4 separate regions of the Homo sapiens genome follow, and regions 1, 2 and 4 are each linked to region 3. Evidence: fine-mapped expression QTL. A gene starts in region 3. Each other region holds a variant in brackets. All regions are shown on one strand. Distances are between the middles of the regions.

Region 1 (5,526 bases), 41 kb after region 3:
ATATTTAAGTAGCATTTAAAAGGCAAATAATTGCATTTAGTCTAGAGATAAGGAATCAATCGCATAGTTATCATTAATAATAAAGACCACAAGTGGCTAAGACCACTTTAACCACAAAAAGGAGACAGTTGAAATATTGTACATGGGTTTAAGTATAGATAATTAAATTCAGCAGTCTGCTTATAGTACCTGCTGTGTGCTGGGCATTGTTTAGATGTTCAGATGTTAAAATAAGAAATGGATTCTGTGCTCAAGGATGCCACCCTTAAGGGTTTAATTAGAGCCATTATTTCCAGAACCATTAATTAGAACCATTATTTCCAGAAAAATTTGGTGGTGATGGGAAGAGTCTTTGTATATTTTTGAACATTCCACAGTGGACACTGTTTGCTTTAAGTATAATCTTTGTATCATATCATCATAGGATTTGTAAAATTTTCAAACTTCTTTGCAAGTACTTTGCAAACTTCTTTGTATGCATTAAAAGAATGCGTGGTTCTGAGAGATTTAATTATGGCAGCCTCAGGGCCACTTTATAAAATGCTCTCCTTTTGATACTCTGTGAGTTGCCATTATGTTGCCCCATTTCTATTCCTGGTAAAGACTCACCGATCATACTGATGAACTTGATCTGCATTTTGGACTGAGCTTAGTCATACAAGTAACGTGGCCGCTGATACATTGTGTATCATTCTGGAAAACAATTGTATGTCACTGTTGACCCGGATATTTTTATGTATAGGATTGCTTAGTTGCAAGATAGATGAAAATATAGTTGCCTAATCATTTAAGAGTGAAAGATTCTTGGTATTCTAGTTTTTGGGTTGAGGAGGGAGAATAAAAAATTTTCCAAGTTTAGTGAGTTTTTTTGTTGGGGGATGGAGAGGGAATGTAGAGAGATGGTTAACCAGTATTTATGTCTCATTTCAAAATAATGACAGCTTTTTTTAAAAAGCTTGAAAGATAGTATATGCCTTTTGTCAGTAATCAACATATGTATGTAATCTATTCTGTTGATAAATGTCAATATCTAAGGATAAGTAGGGCACAGAGAAGGGAAATTGTGTACCTCATTTTCTCTGTAAGGCTGTAAAGAGTGAAGAGGGTGAGAGAAAGAAGGCACACCTTTCATATTCATCTGTCATTTCTAGAAGGCTTAAGTGTCTGAATCTGACTCTTGTTTTTTTTTTTTTTTTTTTTTTTTGAGACGGAGTCTCGCTCTGTTGCCCAGGCTGGAGTGCAGTGGCGGGATCTCAGCTCACTGCAAGCTCCGCCTCCCGGGTTCACACCATTCTCCTGCCTCAGCCTCCCAAGTAGCTGGGACTACAGGCGCCCGCCACTACGCCCGGCTAATTTTTTGTATTTTTAGTAGAGACGGGGTTTCACCGCTTTAGCCGGGATGGTCTCGATCTCCTGACCTCGTGATCCGCCCGCCTCGGCCTCCCAAAGTGCTGGGATTACAGGCGTGAGCCACCGCGCCCGGCCTTTTTTTTTTTAATCTGACTCTTTTAACAGTATTCTGATAGAGCAGCGATGGCTTCAAGACGTAGACTGTTGTCACTTCTTTTGTCTGCTGAGCTGCAAAACAGCTTCTTGGGATATCTGGCCCATGACTTTGGATAGGATTGATGGCTTCCCTAGCCCAGTCTGTTCATTCATCTTTGGAGTTGATTTCTTATCTTTCCTGCTTGAAAAGAATGGATGCAGGGTATGGTATGATTCTGATTATGTTTTTATTCAATATGAAGCAATTAGTTGACCATACCATGAGACAGAAAAGACAAATACTCATTGAAAGTTGATACTTAAAACTCTTACCCTAATTGGGATTAGGAGGAAGAGTACTTTATTTCACCAGAGAATAATGCCAGAAAATTTTGCTAAGGGTAAAAGTGTGGGGACCATTTTCGAAGGAGGTCAAGAGCTAGCTATTTTATGTAAGGGAAATTATCTGAATGGGATGGAATTATAAGGAAAGGAAGCTGAAATATTGAAAGAGAATTTCCCCCAATATTTTCTTAAATGTGGGCTATTACTTTTTCATTGGAAAAAATTTAAAAGGACTACATTAAAAATGAGAATACTTAACAGGCTGAAGTAGGAGGATTGCTTAAGTCCAGGAGTTTGAGGCCAGACTGGGCAACATGGCAAGACCGTGTCTCTCTAAAAAAAAAATCGGAATTCTGCATTTTAAGGAGTGTGGTTCATTCCTAGTTATAGATTAGGACAGTTGAATTATGTGAAGGTCTGAGAACTATTTCCAATATATAGACTTTTATTAAACAAAGGTATAGATGGATGATGACTTAGAAATGCAGGCGGTGATTTTGTTTCATGCCTAGTTTCTCAAGTTTTAGAAAATGGTGACAGTCTCAGAGAAAACAAGCAACTATTTTGTGAAATCTCCAGGTGTCAAAACAGTCCAAGGCACATATAATTAGAATAAATTAAGGGAGAATGTTGCTTTAGAGTTCTTGTGGTGCACTAGTCATTCTTAAAGGGTGAGCAAGGCAAAAACTAAAAATAGATGGAAGCTTATCTGCACATTTGAACTTGTGGAACAGCTGGAGTGGGTCTCTTACTCCCTTACTCTTCCTAACTGAATAATTCTCCCTCTCTGGTTATTTGCTGTATTGAGAAAGTCTTCACTGGCTCTCCTGGCGTTTTTGAGAAGGATATTAAAGGGGCTTGAATTAGAGCACAGGAAGTGGAATAAATGGCAGGAAACATTTGATCATTTCTGTCACTGTCAGAATGAAAGCCCAATATTTGATTTGAGAGGTTGCAGGACAGTAGCAAATGTTTTGATGGGTTTGTGTGTGCGCGTGTGCGCGCG[C/T]GCCTGTGCACACTCTCAACTTTGTATCTTTTTTTTTCTTTGCCCTTCTCTCTAATATTCACTCTTGTCCAGATTTTCATAATATAATTGGAAGAAGCAAAGGCCCTTCCTCCTCTGTTAATGAGTTACAATCTTTCACAGGTCCAAGAAAGGCGACAGAAGGGACTTTCTACTTTGTAGACTTATTATTGTTTTTCATTTTCTACTAAAAGTTTATTTTCCCATGTGCTGTTTTTCGGTGTGTATGCATTGTTAACTGCATTTCCACCATGTTGCATAAGGAACATTTGCAATTTGGTTTATAATGTCACCATTCGTGCTCCATAAGGGAGGTCTATACTCTATCTCTCATATATCCAGTACCTAAAACTCACTGCCTGGCACTTAAGTAGGTGCTTCAGTATATGTCAGCATTCCAAAGGTCTTTGTTACTGTAAATAGAGCATTGATGTGAATAGTACAGATGATGGTGGGCTCTATCATGATCTCTCTTGGCAGGGATTTATCCAGAGTCATTTGAATAATTACCATGTACCAACTAGTATGTCTGGTCCTGGGTATGTACGTATTTAGGACCTTTAGAGAGCTTATATGTTGGTAGGAGAGGACATACTAGGAAACCAACAATTACAGTATGGGGGTGCTGTTACGAGATTTGAGGTGTGCATTAGAGAGCAGAGAGGAAGGCTACCTGACCCAGTTTAGAGTGAGTTGAGAGAATTAGGGGATTGTTTCATGAAGGAGATGATGGTTACATGATCATGTTCTGTAAGATGAGGAAGAGTTAGCAGGGAAAAGGGGAGGAAAGGCTTGGAGCCCTGAGAAAACTTTGTCCTTATGTTGGGGAAGTACTCTGTTCAGTTTTCAAGTTATGCACCATTTTGACTAATCTTTAAGGAAGTAATGTAATTGGTTAGTTTGGACTTTTCTCATAATTTGAACAGAGGTTTTTTGTTTTGTTTTAATAATGGAGCAGTTTAAGAAAGAACTTACCTTGTTTACCCTACCCTAACCAAACCAAACCAAATGAGGTGTTGCATCCTTCTCTGTGCATACCTGCATATGATTTTAAATTAGGAAAGAAAAACCAATCCAACTCTCTTGTGAATAGGAGTTGCTGTTAGTGTACAGTTTCTTATTTTGGCAGCAAACCCATCTCAGCAATGCAGATGTTCTGCAGTAAAATAGGTGACTTATTAATATGATATTTTCTGGTTGTGAAAAACAGTTGCATGGCCAGTATAGAAGTGACCTATTTGAATATAGTACAATATTAATCTGCAGGCATGCTTCAGAGATATTGTGGGTTTGGTTTCAGACTACTGGAATAAAGTGAACATTGCGATAAAGCAAGTCACACATGTTTTTTGTTTCCCGGTGCATATGTTTTGTTTATACTATGCTGTAGTCTAGTAAGTGTGTGATAGCATTGCATCTAAAACTGTACATCCCTTAATTGAAAAATATTGCTAAAAAATGCTAACAATCATGTGAACCTTCAACAAGTCGTGATCTTTTTGCTGGATGGTCTTGCCTTGATGTGGATGGCTGCTAACTGATCAGGTGGTGGTTGCTGAGGATTGGAGCAGCTTAGGCAATTTCTTAAAATAAGACAACAGTGAAGTTTGCTGCATTGATTGACTCTCCTTGACAAAAGATTTCTTTGTAACATGTGATGCTGTTGGATAGCATTTTGCCCACAGTAGAAACTCATTTCAAAATTGGAGTCACTCCTCTCCAACCCTGCTGCTAGTTGATCAACTAACTTTATGTAATACTGTAAATCCTTTGTTGTCATTTCAACAATGCACAGCATCTGCACCAAGAGTAGATTCCATGTCTAGAAGCCACTTTCTTTGCTCATTCCTTAAGAAGCAACCTGCCATCTGTTCAAGTTTTATCATGAGATTGCAGGAATTCAGTCATATCTTCAGGCTCCACTTCCAATTCTAATTCTCTTGCTGTTTCCACCACATGTCCAGTGACTTCTCCCATTGAAGTCTGGAACCCCTCCAAGTCATCCATCAGGGCTGGAATCAGCTTCTTCCAAAACTCCTGTTAATGTTGATATTTTGATGTTCTCCCCTGAATTGTGAATGTTCTTAATGGCATCTAGAATGGTGAATCCTTTGCAGAAGGTTTTCAGTTGGCTTTGCCCAGATTCATCAGAGGATGGATGGCAGGTCTAGGATTATGAAATTAGTTTCTTAAATCATAAGACTTGAAAGTCAAACTTACTTCTGGGTCAGTGGGCTGAAGAAAGCAAGTGTGTTAGCAGGCATGAAAACAACATTAACCTCCTTGTTCATCTCCATCATAGCTCTTGGGTGACCCAGGTGCATTGTGAGTGAGCAGGAGTCTTTTTTTTCTGGGCAGTAGGTCACAACAGTGACCTTAAAATATTAAACCATGCTATAAACAGATGTTCTGTCCAGGCTTTGTTCTAGTTACGGAAACACAGAGTAGACTTAGCATAATTCTTATGGGCTCTAGAATTTTTAGAATGGTAAGTGAGCATTGGCTTCAACTTAAAGTCATCAGCTGCATTAGCCCCTAACAAGAGAGTCAGCTTGTCCTTTGAGGTTTTGAAGCCAGGCTTTGACTTTCCCTCTCTAGCTATGGAAGTCCTAGATGGTGTCTTCTTCCAGTATAAGGCTGTTTTGTCTACATTGAAAATCTGTTGTTTAGTG
Region 2 (5,526 bases), 73 kb after region 3:
GGGTAGAGGTGTTTGTAGTAGTTTCTCATGATTGTTTTTATTTCTATGGAGTCAGTAGTAACATTCCCTGCGTCACTTCTAATTGTGTTTATTTGGATCTTCTCTCTTTTCTTCTTAATTAGTTTAGCGATCTTTTGAATGATTTTTCATGTCTTGATTTCCTTCAGTTCAGCTCTGATTTTTGTTATTTCTCTTCTTCTGCTAGCTTTGGGGTTGATTTGTTCTTCTCTAATTCTTTCAGTTGTGAGATTAGGTTGTTAATTTGAGATCTTTCTTTTTCGTGTGGGCATTTGGTGCTATGAATTTTCCTCTTAACACCACCTTAGCTGTGTCCCAGAGATTCTGTTATGTTGTATCTTTGTTCTCATTATTTTCAAATAACTTCTGGATTTCTGCCTTAATTTCATTATTTACCTAAAAGTCATTCAGGAGCATGTTCTTATTTTCCATGTAATTGGATGGTTTTGAGTGATTTTCATTGTGTTGACTCCTATTTTCATTGCGCTGTGGTCTGAGTGTGTGTTTGGTATGATTTGGTTTCTTTTACTTTTGTGAGGATTGTTTTATGTCCAATTATATGGTTGATTTTAGAGTATGTGCCATGTCGTGATGAGAAGAATGTATATTCTGTTGCTTTTGGTTGGAGACTTCTGTAAAAGGTCTGTCAGATCCATTTGGTTCAACGCTAAGTTTAGGTCCTGAATATCTTTGTTTATTTTCTGGCTCAGTCTGTCTAATACTGTCAGTGGAGTGTTGAAGTCTCCCACTATTATTGTGTGGGGAGTCCATGTCTCTTTGTAGGTCTCTAAGAACTTGCTTTATGACTCTGGGTGCTCCTCTGTTGGGTGCATATATATTTAAGATAGTTAGGTCTTCTTGTTGAATTGAACCCTTTACCATTATCCCATGCCCTTCCTTGTCTTTTTTGATCCTTGTTGGTTTGGAGTCTGTTTTGTTTGAAATTAGGATTGCAACCTTTTTTGTGTTTCCCATTGCTTGGTAGATTGTGTTTCCCATTTGCTTGGTAGATTTTTCTCCATCCCTTTATTTTGAGCCTAGGAGTTTCACTATGAGTGAGATGGGTCTCTTGAAGACAGCATACCATTGGGTCTTGCTTTTTTATCCTTGCCACTTTGTGCCTTTTAAGTGGGGGCATTTAGCCTGTTTACATTCAAGATTAGTAATGGTGTGTCTGGATTTGATCCTGTCATTGTGCTGTTAGCTGGTTATTATGTTGGCTTGTTTGTGTGGTTGATTTACAGTGATACTGGTGTCTGTGTTTAAGTGTGTTTTTGTATTAACTGGTAGCGGTCTTTCTTTTGTATATTTAGTGCTCCTTTCAAGATATCTTTTAAGGGCAGGTCTGGTGGTAATGAAGTCTCTCGACATTTGCTTTCCTGAAAAGGATCTTATTTCTCTTTTGCTTCGGAAGTTTAGTTTGGCTGGATATGAAATTCTTGAAGATTTTTTTAAAGAATGTTGAATATAGGCCCCCAGTCTCTTCTGGCTTGTAGGGTTTCTGCTGAGAGATCCACTGTTAGCCTGATGGGGATCCCTTTGCAGGTGACCTGCTCTTTTTCCCTAACTGCCTTTAACATTTATTCTTTAATTTTCATCTTGGAAAATCTGACAATTATGTGTCTTGAGGATAATCTTCATGTGTAGAATATTGCAGGAGTTCTTTGTATTTTCTGGATTTGACTGTTGGCCTCTCTAGCAAAGTTGGGAAAGTTTTTGTGGATGATACCCTGAAACATATTTTCTAAGTTGTTGGCGTTCTCCCCTTGCCTTTGAGGGATGCCAGTGATTTGTAGTTTTGTCCTCTTTACATAATTTCTCGGAGGTTTTGTTCATTCCTTTTTATTCTTTTGTCTTTATTTCCGTCTGTCTTATTTCAGAAAACAAGTCTTCAAGTTCTGAAATTCTTTCCTTAGCTTTGGTTTATTCTGCTGTTAATTCTTGTGATTGTATTGTGAAATTCTTGTAGTGTGATATTCAGCTCTGTCAGATCCCTTAGGGTTTTTTTTTTTTTTTAAATACTGGTTATTTCATCCTTCAGCTCCTGTATCACTTTATTATGATTCTTATTTTCCTTGGGTTGGGTTTTGTCATCATCCCGAATCTCAATGATCTTTGTTCCTATCCATATTCAGAATTATATTTCTGTCATTGCAGCCCATTTGGCCTGGTTAAGAACTGTTGTTGGAGAACTGGTACAGTCATTTGAAGGACATATGACACTCTGGCCATTTGAGTTACTAGAGTTCTTGTGTTGGTTATTTCTCGTCAGTGTGTGTGGGTATTACTTTAACTGCAGTGTAGATTGAGTATGGTCAATAGACTTCTTTACTGCATGTTTTCACTGAGTTGAGGTTTTGTGTAGGGTGTTTATTTGAAGCTGACTTCTTGTTTCTGGTTTCAGAGGGGAGGGTATGTCAGGTATCTTTGGTGTTAAAGCTTTGGGGTATGATCCAGCAGGTGGCTCTTAGGCTTATTGGACAGCTGGTGGACTAAACAGTTGTTCAGTTGTGTGGCTCCCCTATGTTTCCTCACAGTTGTAGCCATGTTCCCTCTCAGTGTCCTGAAAGTATGGGTTTCTCTGCCCCTTGAGTGCTGGCTGTAGTTCATGACATCCAGTACAGCTCTGGGGAGATCTCAGTATTTATGTTCCTCCCCCAGCTTACAGGCTGCAGAGGGAGAGATCTTATTAGTGGTTTTGGCCAAGGGTTGTTTGCTTGATTCCTGGGGGCTCCACCTCAGAGAGATGCAGGTGAGCAGTTGCTTAGTGCAGTCAGCCCAGGATGGAGGGTCAGTGCTGCGGGCCCAAGCCAGGGGTTGGTTCCCTGTCTGGTGATGAGCCGTCAGAGGTGTGTGGGACCTGTGGGAGATGGACTGGCCTCCTCTCCTTGAGTTTACTGCAGCTTGTTGGAGTGTGGATAAAGC[A/G]CTTAATGTCTTTGCTCCTTCATCAGACCGAGGGTGGCAAGGGCAGTTCCACAGTAGAGTCAGTGGCCGAGAGGCTTTTAGTTGCCACTAGAGGCTCTGTCCAGGGAGTTGCTGAGTTGGTGCTAGCTGAGTAGCTCTGGTTGGGGGTGGCTGGAGCCCCAGGCTTGGAGGACCTGCCCTGTGAGGAGATATGGGATCAGCCACCCACGTAACAGTGGGGCCACTTTTCCCTAGGGCTGCTGTGGTATACTTGAGGCCTGCAGCAGTCCCTGGTCACCTCAGATTTTCCAGAATCTGGAGGTGTTACCAGTGAAGACTGTGAAACAGCAAAGATGGCTGCCTGTCCTTCCCTCTGGGAACTTTGTCCCAGGGAGGAATGACCTGTTGCTGGTCCAAAGGCACCTATAGGAAGTGGCTGGAGACTCCAGTTGGGAGGTCCCCCAGTGAGGAGGAGCAGGATCAGGACTGCTTAAAAAAGCAGTCTGGCCACATTTTGGTAGAGCATGTGTGCTGTGCTGGGGGTCCACTTCAGCCCTCGGTTGCCTCAGACACTCTGAAGCTCTAAGGCTGGAACAGCTGAGTCACCCAAACAGCAAAGATGGTAGCCACCCCTTCCTCCGGAAGCTTTGTTCCAGGGGAACTTCAGATCTCTGTTGGCTGGAGAGCTTGGGTGGGGGTGGCTGGAGGCCCAGGTTGGGAGGTCCTACCCAGTGAAGAGGAATGGGATTGGGCACCTGCTTAAAGCAACAGCCTGGCCACGTTTGGGTAGAGCAGCTGTGCTGTGCTGTGCTGGGGCATCCCTTCTGTTCTGGGTCAGCACAGATTCTCCAAAGCACAAAGGCTGGAATGGCAAAGATGGTGGCCCACCTCTTCCCCTAGGAGCTCCTTCTTAGGGAGGTGCAGTGCCACTACTGGCAGCTGGCTAGAATTCCAAGCCAGTGGGTCTTATCTTGTGGGCTGCCATGGAAGTGGGTCCTGTGGGCTCTTGCTGGTCAGTCCCCTGGATTCAGCCTCTTTCCTAGGGGTATTTACAGGAGTCTAACCTCCCACCCTGCTGGAGGTACAGCTACTTTTGCCAGAAAGCCCAAGTATCTAAGGCTCCAGGGTCTTCACGCATGCCAAGACTCCACATGGCTCTGTTGGTCAGACTGAAGACTGCAGGCCCTGGTGGAGTGGGTTCACAAGGCGATCTCTTAACCTGAAGTTTGCAAAGGTCTGTGGGAGAAGCATAGTTTCTGGGGATCGCTCATTCACTCACTGCTTCCCTGAGTCGGGGAGGAACCCCTGGCTCCGTGTTGCTCCCAGGTGCGCTGTTTTCCTGCCTTGCTTTTCTCTGTTCTCTGTGGGTCAAGTTGTTTCCTTGATTAATCCCAATGAGAGTACCTGGATGTTTCAGTTGAAGGTGTTGTATTTACTCACCCTTTCTGTTCCTCTCTGTGAGAGTCACACACACTAGCTGCCTCTAGTCGGCTCTGTTGGCCACTCCCTAGCCGTTTAAACTGTTTAAAAAAAAATCTTATCGTGATGTAATTCACATGCTATATAACTTACCCATTTAAAGTGTACAGTTATTTTAGTATATCCAGAGAGTTGTTCAACTGTCACTGTGATCAATTTTGAATCTTTTCATCACCCCAGAACGAGACTTTGCACACCTTAGTTGTTATCTTGACCCAAATTTCGTAACTGTTTTGAGTTACTCACTGAAGATCATTTGGTCTCTTAACAGGCAGCAAGAAATTGATCCAGATTATCTCCTTTCTCGATCTGTCGTCTTACTGACAGATTTTTAGGCACCAAAAATCACAATTCCTTTCTGTGTATGCTACTTTAAGATAGATTTCTTGTCTTCTGTGAGTTCATTTGGGAGTTTCAGTGAAGGACCTGGGTGTTTTGATGGAAGTACATGGTTTATGTGTATCCATATTAAATTTCATCTTGGTGTATTGGGCCTCTCATGTCTGTCCTTGGTACATCCTTTTAGCCTTTTAGGACTTCTGGATCTTCAGTCTGCCTTTTAATGTATTAATGTTCTTAGTGAACCTAATATGGTCTGTATATTTGATCATTTGATCATTAGATTTTTTTTTTAAGTCATTGGCAAATGTGTTAATTAGAATTAGGCAGAGTGGGAGTGGGGAAGAGTTGGCGTTGCCTGTACAAAATCTCGTTTCTTGTAGATATTTATGAATTACTCATTTTGCTTTGTTTACAGAACCATTATAGGGTTGAGGATGGCAACAGTGGGACACGAGGCATATTCTCCCCCTCCCACAGTGCTTCTCTAAATTCCTAGATTTCACCTAGAAGCACAGACAAAAGCATGAGCGGCGGGAGGGGAATTTTAGTCACACTCTTTATACTTATAGCCACCATGACGTCTCAACTCACATTTCTTCAGTTTGTTCACAGCAATAACATAGGGGATTTGGGCATAGGTTTTACTCAAATTCAGACACAGTGTTTTTAGTTTTCCTTAGTCTCTGTTACCAATCCCTTGGATGATAAAATTTATTTTAAAAAAAGAACTGTGGTGTGTCTTCTTGAAGGTATATGCTGAGCTTTTAGATTATTGCTTCCCTT
Region 3 (5,526 bases):
TAGATTAGAGTGGGTCAATTTAGGGAGGGTGGCCAAGGAAGGTTTCTCTGAGGAGGATCATTTGAGCTGAGGCCTGAATGATGAGACGACATCAGCCATGCAGATAACAATTTAGGAATTCCCAAGGAGGACAGAGGGCTCAACCGTTTGGGGAATTTAGGGTAGACTCCTGCCTTCAAAGTTGGGTTTCAGGCTGGGCATGGTGGTTCATGCCTGTAATCCCAGCACTTTGGGAGGCCGAGGCGGGCAGATCGCCTAAGGTCAGGAGTTCAAGGCCAGCCTGGCCAATATGGTGACACTCTGTCTCTACCAAAAATACAAAAACTAGCTGGGTGTGGTGGTGTGAACCTGTAATCCTAGCTACTTGGGGGGCTGAGGCAGGATAATCGCTTGAACCGGGGAGGCGGAGGTTTCAGTGAGCCGAGATCATGACACTGCATTCCAGCCTGGACAATAGAGTGAGACTCTGTCTTAAAAAAAAAAAAAAAAAAAAAAGTCGGGTTTCAAAATAGCTACGTCAGTAGCACCTGGGAGCTTTTTAGAAATGCGGAATCCCAGATGCCACCCCAGACTTACTGAATCAGAATCCACATTTAACAAACACTCCCAGGTGATTTGTAAGCACAGTAAATTCAAGAAGTGCTAGACTCTTAACTTTTCCTGCAGCCCACTGGAAAGGTGTAAATCCTGCTGAGGCGGGGAGCAGGGAACGGTGTTGTCAGTGTCCGTAGAAAGATGACATGGTAACATTTACTGCTGCCTCTGAAACAAACAAGCTAGGTTCTAAGGGGGAAGTTCACTGGGTTATCAAATGTTAGGGTCCAAGTGATTTTCTTGGTTAGCACTCTTGCTTCACAGAAGACTCAGGTTCTTTGAGAAGTGACCGGCTCATGATAGGCTGCTTCTCTCTCTGTGCCAGCCTTTTTTTTTTTTTTTTTGAGATAGGGTCTGGCTCTGTCACCCAGGCTGGGGTACAGTGGCATGATTTGGCTCACTGCAACCTCTGCCTCCTGGGCTCAAGCAATCCTTCCACCTGAGCCTCCCAAGTAGCTAAGATTTGGGCTACCATGCTTGGCTAATTTTTGTATTTGTTAGTACAGATGGCGTTTCAATTGATGCCCAGGCTGGTCTCGAACTCCTGGGCTCGAGCAATCTGCCCTCCTCAGCCTCCCAAAGTGCTGGGATTACAGGTGTGAGCCACCGCGCCAGGCCTTGTGCCAGTTTTTAAAAATCAACAAGGACAGATTAGAGAACAGTGGAAGAGGGTGAGCAGCATGATGAAGTGATACAGAAATAATTTCACATGAAGAACTGGGCATGTTTGGCCTTTCTTTTCTTTTCTTTTTTTTTTTTTAAAGCCATTCGGTGAGGGTTACTTAAGAAAATAGGGCCGGGTGCGGTGGCTCATGCCTGTAATCCCGGCAATTTGGGAGGCCGAGGTGGGTGGAGCACCTGAGGTCAGGAGTTTGAGACCAGCCTGGCCAACATGGTGAAACACTGTCTCTACTAAAAATAAAAAAATTAGCCGGGTGTGGTGGTGGGTACCTGTAATCCCAGCTACTTGGGAGGCTGAGGCAGGAGAATCGCTTGAACCCTGGAGGTGGAGGTTACAGTGAGCTGAGATTGCACCATTGCACTCCAGCCTGGGCAACAAGAGTGAAACTCTGCCTCAAAAAAAAAAAAAAAAAAAAAAAGAAAAAAGAAAAAAAGAGAAAATATATGTGAGCACCAGAGCTCAACATTAGGAGCATTTCTGAGATTTGGAGCTATTCAACAATGGAAGTTCCTGGCACACACATCAGGTATTCACAATACCCTTTCTCAGGTGTTTGGTCACTGCTAGTGAGCCGCCTGGATCAGTGTTTCCCAAATGGCAGTCATTTGCATCTTTGCTTTTCTTTTGGGGGCGGGGGGGTAATATCCTGTACCAGATTTTTGAAAACTGACATTAAAAATACATGTTTAAAATGTGCAAAGTGCACTAAAGTGCACTGGATGTATTTTTTATTCATGTATATACTTTTGTTATCTATCACCCAGGTCAAAATACAGAACCAGCACCCCAGAGGGTTCCCTCCTCCTCCTTCCCAGCCAATAATCTTCTCCTCCTACCTAACCGCTGTTCTTACTTCAATCACTATCAACTAGTTTTACACGTTCTTCAACTGCATATAAATTGTCTCAGTTTTTTACTTAACACTTTTCTTGAAGTGCTTTCGTTTTTTGCCACTTTTTATTTGACCTAAGAAATAACATTAATGAAACAGTGGTTTGACGTGATAGGCATTTCCCTCCTAATGCGCACTAAAAACACTTAACTATTTGAAAAAAGAAGTTTCTTCGTGTACCAACTAATATATTCTCCGCCCTGTCTCCAGAAACCGCCCTTCCTCTGTGGGCCGGTGGTTACCGGCACCATTGGTACACGGACCACATTTTGTTTCCCAAAGCAACCAGATGATTTTTGAGGTCCTTTGCAGCTCGAACACGGAATGACTTTGTGGTGATCGAGTAGCCAGAAGTTCACGGAATGCACTGTCACAATTGTGATTCCGCCATAGCGCCGTGCATCCATCCAACACTTGTTTAATACCTATATTTAATACCTAATACCTTAGACGGTCCTAGGCTGTGGACACAGAAGACTAAACCCCACTTCCTGAGTTGAAGTGGGGGAAATAGAGGAGTAAATCATTTCACGATGTGTGGTTAAGTGCTGCAGCTCAGGTAACCACCAGTACACAGAGGAAGGGCGGTTTCTGGAGACAGGGCGGAGAGGAGACCGTGGGTGGGCATTTCCCAGAGCAGCCTCTGCCAGCCACCCTACTTTGATCACTTTGCCGCCGAGCAGCAGCGGCGGTCAACCTCAGCCTCCCTTAGCAACCTGAGTGCCCCGTCCAGGAGCCTTACTATTGGTCTCATGCAGCGAGATGGGCAGTTCTGCCGTGCAATCCCAGCTCGCAGTTCTTGCTCCGCGTGTACTCACGGGAGGACTCGCAGGCGTTACCGCCTTCCCGCGTGCCCCGCCCACCCTCCCGAGCGTCTTTCGGCGCATGCGCGGACTGGAGCTGTGTGCAGGGCCAGCGCGGAGCCCGAGCAGCCGCGGTGAAGCGCCTGTGCTCTGCCGAGACTGCCGTGCCCATTGCTCGCCTCGGTCGCCGCCGCTTTAGCCGCCTCCGGGGGAGCGGCCGCCTATTGTCTTTCTCCGCGGCGAAGGTGAAGAGTTGTCCCAGCTCGGCCCGCGGGGGAGCCCCGGGAGCCGCACGGTGAGAGCGCAACTTAGTTGGCGGAGTTGGGGGAAGTTTTGTGATTTGTGGGTCGGGGCGCGGAGCGCGGCCAGTCCCCTGCGGTTGCTCGGTGGGGCGGGCCCCGGAGGAGGGGCGGGGGCTGCGGGGGTTTCGGGGGCGGGCTGGACAGACGGGTCGCCGGGCGGCGCCGGGACCTCAGGTCTGCGGACCCCTCCTCCCTGCGCATCGCCCTTCTCCCGCATTGTCTGCTTGGGGCTCGGCGCGCCTCCCACTCCGCAGCCCAACTTAGAGGCCGTCGCCGCTTTCCGGGTGGGGGGCGCGCCCGGCCGCCGATGCTACCTCAGGCGCTCCGCCCCCAGCGAGGCCCCGAATCCTTGCCCCGGGTCCCCGGGTCGGCGCCGCCGGGGCGGGCTCACTCCTCCCCTGGGGCGGGCGGCCGCGGTGTGGAGTCCCCGCCGTGGAGTCCGCGCCGTGAACAAGTGCTGCGGGCGCGAGGGAGCGGCTCCCCGGGGTCGACGCGGACGGTAAACACGTCGGGCCGCGCCTGCCTGTCGGTGCCTCTCCGCGGCTTCTCGGGGGTGCGGCCCAGCTGACCCGCGCGGGTCGCAGGCGAGCGGCCCAGGAGACCCGTGCGGTCCCCACGCGCTCTGGGACCCGTGCAGCCAGCCGGCTCAGCTTGCAGCTATACTTTGATACCAAACAAAACTTTTTTTTTTTTTTTTGGTAAATACGGTTTACTGCTTTTTTTTTTTTTTTTTTTTTGCAAAGCCACGAAGTATGTGAAGTTGAAAAAAGGAAAAACCCTAAAACTTTTTAAAAAAAAATCAAGAAAGGGGGTAGATAGGTTTGTTTTGTTTTGGAAATAGTTCTTATAGCAGAGTGATACCGTCCCATTTAATTTTCTAGATCCCGGAATTCACAATGAAAATTGGATTGAGCGGTATTTTGGTGTTCATTCTTTGCTAATGACACTCCTTAATGAAGTTATTTGGAGAGTTTATTGCTTCAGTACAGTAAAAACCAGTGTGCCTTTTTTTTTGTTAGTAGTCCCCCCCACAACAAGTGTTTTATTTTTAGAAGAAGCATTTTCTTCAGTTTTTCTGAACTGTTGGATTGCGCAGATGAGGACAAACGGTGCAGTTCTTGAAAGGTCATTATTGGCAAGTTTGTGAAGAAGCTAAGATCAGTTGAGATAAATCATTGTTACTATTCTTGTATTCTGTCGTGGACTCTTGGGGATTTGCAGGCTGCATTAAGTACAAGTTTTGTCAAGTTTGGGTGCACATATTACACTTAATTTGGTTTGTGTGGCTTATTATATGAACATGATTCTGTTTCAGTTCCCCAGATGGAACTAGCTTAAATGTCTGTCATTCATAGTGGAGCAAAATGGCCAGAGTGTCATTTATTGTTAACTTCAGTTGTATTCCTTTACCATCTGCTAAATGAAAAAGAAAAATTTGAGAAATACTGTGTGTGTCAGTTTGCTCAGAGTGATTTCTCGTGCTAAGTGAGTCCTGTGGAGAAGCGTTCCTGGGCTTTTCTGGTTTGGTGGGCCTTGTGTTATAAAACCAATTTTCTTCACCTGATGAAGCTAAAGACAAATTTTCTTCAGGTACAGCCATTGCACTTTTAAATTACAGAGCCGCTTTTAGGATTCACAGTACTCGCTCCATGGCTTCCCTTCCTGGTTGTGTGGTTTTGTGTGTGTGATTGTGGGGAAGGAGGTTGACAGAGGTTGGAAGGGATTGTCAGGGAGGGACATAATGTAAGCAAGTACTACTTACAACATGACGTGACGAGTGCACTAGTTGCTTTCCTTCTCTGGGCGGTGATGGCATGTTATACTGTAGGTACTATTGTTTTAGGATTTCTCACACTTCTTTTGCCTTGACTAAATGGTAACTGCACACATACTATACTATAAATGGACTCCTCCTCTAGTCCTTTAACTCCTTGAGGGCTGTGATAGACCTTATTTAGCTTTTTACCCTCTTTGCCGGTAGTCTTAACATAGTGCAGGCACGGTACGTGTTTGAATTGGGTAAATTATTTTTACTGCCTAGTGGTAGCTAGCGTACACAGGAGAGAGCCACTAACTGGGGACCTGTCCAGAATGACAGTTCACTTGCAGATCTGTGATGACATTTACTTTAAAAGGATTTCTAACCTTTTTTTAATCTGTCAATTATTTTTTGAAAAGAAGTGGGTTTAACTAGCGCTCTAAGGATTTCAACAAGAGGTTCCAATTTAGAAATCAGCCCCCCCCTTTTTGTGA
Region 4 (5,526 bases), 370 kb after region 3:
AAAGAGGTCTGGTTTAAAATTTGTAGCCTACATTTGTTTTATTTATTGTATTTGTGTGTTTGTGTTTGTTTTTTTTTAAGGGTGAGCCAGGTCTAGCCCAACAGTCTAAACTATCCAGTCAATACCGAGTGAAGTGGCAGCCAGCACTGTTCACTCTGTGTCTTTTGAAGTGCCTTGAAGGCCCAGATGAAATTTTAAAGGGAGGGGGTCCATGTCCTTCCCTCCCCCACCCCGCCTCATTCTTTAATCAAAGGATGTCTTCTCCCTTGTTTGAGAATGAAGAAACTCGCCACCTCTGACCTACCTTTGCCTTTTTCTGTCATGGAGAATACTCACCCTTCAGAAACAGACCAAAGGCCAAAACCTGCTGATTTTTCTATTGAAAATATGTCCCCTTGCAAAGACCCTAAACAAAAAGTTAAGTTTCTTTCTTTCACCTATTTGTACAACTCCAAGTTACAGCTGAATCTGTCGTGACTTTCCTGAGATCTACCCGGGGCTTGGCTGTCTGTTCTGGGCACTGGCTCCGAGTTCCCCTCCTGGGATTTGCAGGAGGGCAGTACTGAACCTGCATTCTTCTCCTTGTAAATGTAGGCCGGGTGCCCCTGTTCTCCGGGTTTGGAACAATACGAGGTTGGTGCTGATGGGATTTACTTGCGTACGTGCTCTTCACAAAAACACCGTGGATGCTGAAGTTAGAGCACGTCGCCACAGAGCTTGACATCAATGTTAGAGGGTCTCTTACTCCCCGCCCAGCTGTGATGTTTCATCTGCTTTGGTTGTTTTGGTGGTCTTTTTTAAAAATAGAGATTTCACATCTGCCCAGACCCCACTCAAAACGATTTGGTCAGGTTCTGGTTGGACAAGTTTAAAATCAAAGTAGTGCCCGGAATTCCCTCAAACCACCCAACTTCATCCAGGAATACAGTCTGCAGTGCAGCAACAGAACCGCTTACCAAGAACTGTGCTTACATACCTTTGTCATCTCTCTTCCCCCCTTGGAAGTTGTCCTCAGGGGGATTTGTTCCTGTCCTGGGGATTTACCTGGGATGGTGGCTGCCTGTGCTTTTGCTCATGGCCTTGACAGTGCTCTAGTTGCTGGATCTAATGGCCTGTCTTGGTTTCTATCACATGAGAAGGGGTTGTTTTTTTGGGGTGACTCGGACTGAATTCCCCATACTGTTTCCACGCCGGGACACCATGTTCTCCATCAAGCTAAAGAAATCACGTGCCTGAAACTGTGCTTAAGTTTTGGGGGAAAGATGGAGTTCCTATCCAGAGCCCCCAGATTTCCAGAATCGAGTGAGCTTCCTGGAAGGAGACTGCGTCTTCTCTCAATTCCAGTCATCTCAGTCGTTGTCGTTAGGTGACATGTGCACTTTAAATGCTCTCATCGGTTGGCTTCATTTTCAAGACAATCAAATGTATTGACTGTGTTTTCTTCTTAGAAAATGGAGAGGGTTAAAAACATGCAAACTGCCACTTTCAACCTTTGCCAGTATTCCCTCTACCCCCGTGAGAGCTATCTGGGGGGAAGAATCCTTACCAAGGTTTTTTTGGAAAGGTACGAATCTTAACTTTTTTCCCCTTCTGTGTCTCAGGGTAATACTATTCAGAGTCGCCCCTTTGCTCATTTTCTCCCGTATTTGTTACCTTCCTGAGGCCTCAGTATTAGTCGTGAGCACAAAGTTTTGAGACCTTTGGCGTTGTTTCTTGATGTGGGAGGGGAGGTGTTAGTGCATGCAAGGGTTGAACTAGATAGACCCTGCCTTAGTAGAGGGTGGGACTATAACCTTAGAGGCCAGAACTTGATCCAGAAGTTGCTGTCCACAGAAGTGCTTTCTATTTCATCATTTTTGTTTCTAGGGCTCTTTTTCTGTAGCCAGGTCTTCCCAAGGATTTTAGTATTTGCATTGGAGTTGAGGTTTACTCTAATGATGGTGGCCCAGCTGTGCCCAGAGGACAGCCAGGCAGGCCCTGGGAGGGAGTTTAGAAAGACAGTCCTGGTGAATGGGCTTCAAGTGGTCACAAAGAGGGTGGCTGTGAGGTGACCCCAGACACTGCAGAACGATGTGCACCCTCTGCGTTTTGGATGTCCTTGGAATGTGGGAGCCTAGAAATAACCCTGTGGATGGAATTGGGGCAGCGGCTGCTGGAGATCTGTG[T/C]GCCTTGCCTTCCTTCAGCAGGACCGTCTAGGTGCGCAGCCACCTATGGATGCGTCCCAGCCAGCCCCGTCGCTCTCGTCCATCCTCAGAGACAAAGAAGAGGGCAGGGAGTTTGGGCTTGGTTTTGAACTTTCCTTTCAATGTAGCAAAGCATTCCTAGTTAACCAGAGCCTTGGAATCTACTGCCTGCTGGCCAGGCTTTAAAATGAAAAGTGTTTTAATGCTGCCATAAAAGGGAGGCGGGGGGGAGGAAGGGAAAATAAAGGCATCTTTCCAAGTACTCATCTAATTTAATTGTCAAAAGATTGATAGGCCATGAATTACTTCTCCATCTCACTAAGGGTTAAAGGCGTGCAACCCCCCACTGGCTGTGTCCCCTGCCACCGAAGTGAGTGACCTGCCCTACAACCAGGTGGGACCACCTGTGCTGCAGTCCGGAGGGGCTTCTGCAGGAAGCACTCACCCCCCACACCTTCCCCGGCCTGAGCTTCCCCTACCTTTCGTCACCACCTGAGGGCATGAGCACAGGCCATGGGGCGTGCCTGGTGAGTCTGCCTGTGGTTCAGGCTTAGCCTGTGGTCTCCTGTGTGCTGCTGCCCGCATGGGATGCGCAGGGGAGGCGTGGGGATCCGCAGGAGGGTGGTTGGGATACACCGGATACCTCTGCTCTCATTGCTTGTTTGCAAATGCTCTATGGACATTTGTGTGCTAAATCCTATTAAATAAAAAAGACGGGTTAAAACCCAGATGCTGTATATTCATTTGTAATTATGTATAAAGTGAAGCAGTTTTAAACTGTAAAGATTTTTTTCAGTGTGTTTTCTCGAATTTTGCCACAACATACTGGCTTCGTATTTTATTTATCTTTCTTTCTAGTTACCAGCTTCAGACCCTTGTAAAGTCTCCCTCAGCCCTTTCAAAAAATAATAAATTTCCTGTGAAGTTCTGGTTGGTGCTGTGACTTATTCCTATTCCTGATTCCTGTAGAAGGGATACTCCCCATCCACCCCCATAGCTCTTGAGGAGACGCCTTATGCACCGAGCAGCTGCTGGGGACGCATTTCACTCTCTCGGAGTGGGACCCAAACCCAGAGAGTGACTGATCAGCCCTAAAGTCAAACAAACAGTTTATGCCAAGAGCCAAAACTTCCTATTTCCAGATAAATCAATACAGTGAACAGGAACTTTGCTATAGAGCCTGCGACTTCCCTTAATGTTAGTTTCTCTCTCTTCGCTAACATTCTCCACCCCGTCCCACCCCCAAACTAGAGCAACTGCCAGAAACTAATTCAAGAAGAAAGATCCTCTCTGCTTGTAGCTCCCGGCTGATTCACTGGGTCTGATCCCGGAATGTCGGGGCTCCCCTGGAGACACACAGGGCTCCAGCTGTCACTGGCTCCACCAGCACAGCCTGTGCCTTCCATTTTTAGATTAGATTACTAGCTTCCTACTCTTCCAGGTCTGCGCTTTCTGGACCTATAGGAAGACCCTTAAGTCCAGCTGGGCCTTGGAGAACTGTGCCGCTCGCAGTAATGCAGAGAACCTGGGCAAAGCTGCCTGGAGTCCCCGCTCTGCCACTTCCCAGCTCCCCGCCCCTCCCTGACAGTCACCAAAAAGAAAGTCCTGGCCAGGCGTGGTGGCTCACGCCTATAATCCCAGCACTTTGGGAGGCCGAGGTGGTCGGGTCACTTGAGCTCAGGGGTTCAAGACCAGCCTGGCCAACATGGTGAAGCCCCGCCTCTAGTAAAAATACAAAAATTAGCTGGGCGTGGTGAAACCCCATATCTATCTACTAAAAATACAAAAATTAGCCAGGCGTGGTGGCACATACCTGTAATCCCAGCTACTCGGGAGGTTGAGGGAGGAGAATTGCTTGAACCCGGGAGGCGGAGGTTGCAGTGAGCCGAGATCGTGCCGCTGCACTCCAGCCTGGCAACAGAGCGAGACTCTGTCTCAAAAAATAAAATCCTGCCCAGCTGCCAAGTGTCTTTCCTTTCACCACGAACTTGGAAGTGCACGGGTTTCTTTGCAGAGTCTTGTAGCCCTGGTGATAGCTGCCTCCCCATAAGCCAGTAAAACACTGGTCTTTTTTCTCTCGCTCACTGCTCTTGGCTGTCACTGCTGCCCTGGCGGTCTCCTCCCCCACAGCAGCCATCCTGGCCTGGGTCCGCGGTGGCCCTCATCCACCCAGACACCCTCAGCAGGGCAAGAGGAGTGGTTCCCATGGCCTCCCTCCTCCGCTCTCCACCGCAACTGGTTCTGAGCCAGGGACAGGCTCTGTCTGGGAGGCAAGAAGAGCGAGAAGATTCCATTCTCTTCCAGAACAGCAGAGACACAAAGCGCAGAGGGCCCCAAGAACACTAGCCAGCCATTCAGTAGGGGCTTAAGTCTCTGCCCACTCCTAACGGATGCTGCTGTGCCCAGAGCCTCTGCCACAGCACAGACTTGACCGCCAAGTGGCTCCTACGAAAGTGGCCATTTTCCGTTTGAAGGTCCCTCATCCCCAGGGAAAGCCCGTGGCCTAGGGGCGGCCACCTGTGAACTAGCAGGAGATGCTGTCTGCAGCCACAGCCCTGCCGGAAAAGAAGTGGGAGTCGCTGATGCTGCAAGACAGAGACCTAAACCGAAGTGTGGGGAGGACACTAGGAGGCCCCAAAAACCAAAAAGCCAGGGAGGAGCTTGGGAGGAGAGGAGGCATGCAGCGTGCAAGCCTTGCGATTTCCTTGGAAGCAGCCACAGAAGCAGAGGGCGGGCGAGCTGAGCTGCAGATTGTTAGACCTCAGACCTGGAACTCCCTGAACTCCCTGCCTGGGGGTGACAACCCCCTCATCCAGCCTCTGCACAGCAAGAAGTGCCTCCCCAAGCCCCCCACCTCCCCGTCCCTGCCACAGTTCCTGTTCTTTGGAGTCTTCGGAGACTCCTTTGTCCTTAAAATTTGACTCTGTTTCTTCAGGGGCACAGTGGCAGATCATCCAGAGGGTCCTGGAGCAGTCCAGTTCCAGCGCCGTCCTGCCACCCCTGTGGGTGTCCCCCCGGGCCAGAGAGGAGTGACAAGTGGGAGGAAGTGGCATGTGCCCTAAATGGGGAGGATGTGGGTCCCAGAGCCCCAGCAGCCTACCCCCTCCACCCCAGTTTGGGGCCCTCCCTTGCTGCCTGCCCGCCCCTGCCCCTTCCGCCATCCCCAGCTGCCTTTGGTATCCAAGTGACAGCCTGGGCCCTTCCCACCCCCGCTAAGGCCTCCTCCTTTCATATGGTAATGGCTTGCTCTACACAGCCCTAGTCCCACAGATGTGTGGGCTACCCCTCTCTCCCCATGCCTTTGGGAAACTTTCTTCTTCCTGGGAAACAGAATCTGGACCCT

Evidence for each region. PIP is the estimated chance that this variant, and not a neighbour inherited with it, causes the effect.
Region 1: its variant is the best candidate, but not a certain one, in a credible set for the expression of AKAP13 in whole blood (TOPMed, PIP 0.87).
Region 2: its variant is the best candidate, but not a certain one, in a credible set for the expression of AKAP13 in whole blood (INTERVAL, PIP 0.70).
Region 4: its variant is the best candidate, but not a certain one, in a credible set for the expression of AKAP13 in whole blood (TOPMed, PIP 0.55).

The regions. Positions count from the first base shown.
Region 1 is chr15:85,418,756-85,424,281 of GRCh38, forward strand. All of the region lies in intron 1 of AKAP13 (A-kinase anchoring protein 13), which reads left to right. Among named protein-coding and RNA genes, the nearest start is that of AKAP13, 41 kb to the left of the region's middle. The variant C/T (reference allele first, on the strand shown) is at 2,837.
Region 2 is chr15:85,450,201-85,455,726 of GRCh38, forward strand. The region is part of intron 1 of AKAP13 (A-kinase anchoring protein 13); the gene reads left to right. Among named protein-coding and RNA genes, the nearest start is that of AKAP13, 72 kb to the left of the region's middle. RefSeq lists enhancers at 2,591-2,660, 2,821-2,940, 3,531-4,078, 4,079-4,625. The variant A/G (reference allele first, on the strand shown) is at 2,944.
Region 3 is chr15:85,377,533-85,383,058 of GRCh38, forward strand. It overlaps AKAP13 (A-kinase anchoring protein 13), which reads left to right and starts at 3,071. Exons shown (of 37, transcript NM_007200.5): 1 at 3,071-3,266. MIR7706 (microRNA 7706) reads left to right here and starts at 3,064; the gene lies at 3,064-3,130. RefSeq lists silencers at 2,922-3,001, 3,382-3,951, 3,608-3,775.
Region 4 is chr15:85,746,246-85,751,771 of GRCh38, forward strand. AKAP13 (A-kinase anchoring protein 13) reads left to right here. Exons shown (of 37, transcript NM_007200.5): 37 at 1-3,110. Among named protein-coding and RNA genes, the nearest start is that of LINC02883, 9.7 kb to the right of the region's middle. The variant T/C (reference allele first, on the strand shown) is at 2,166.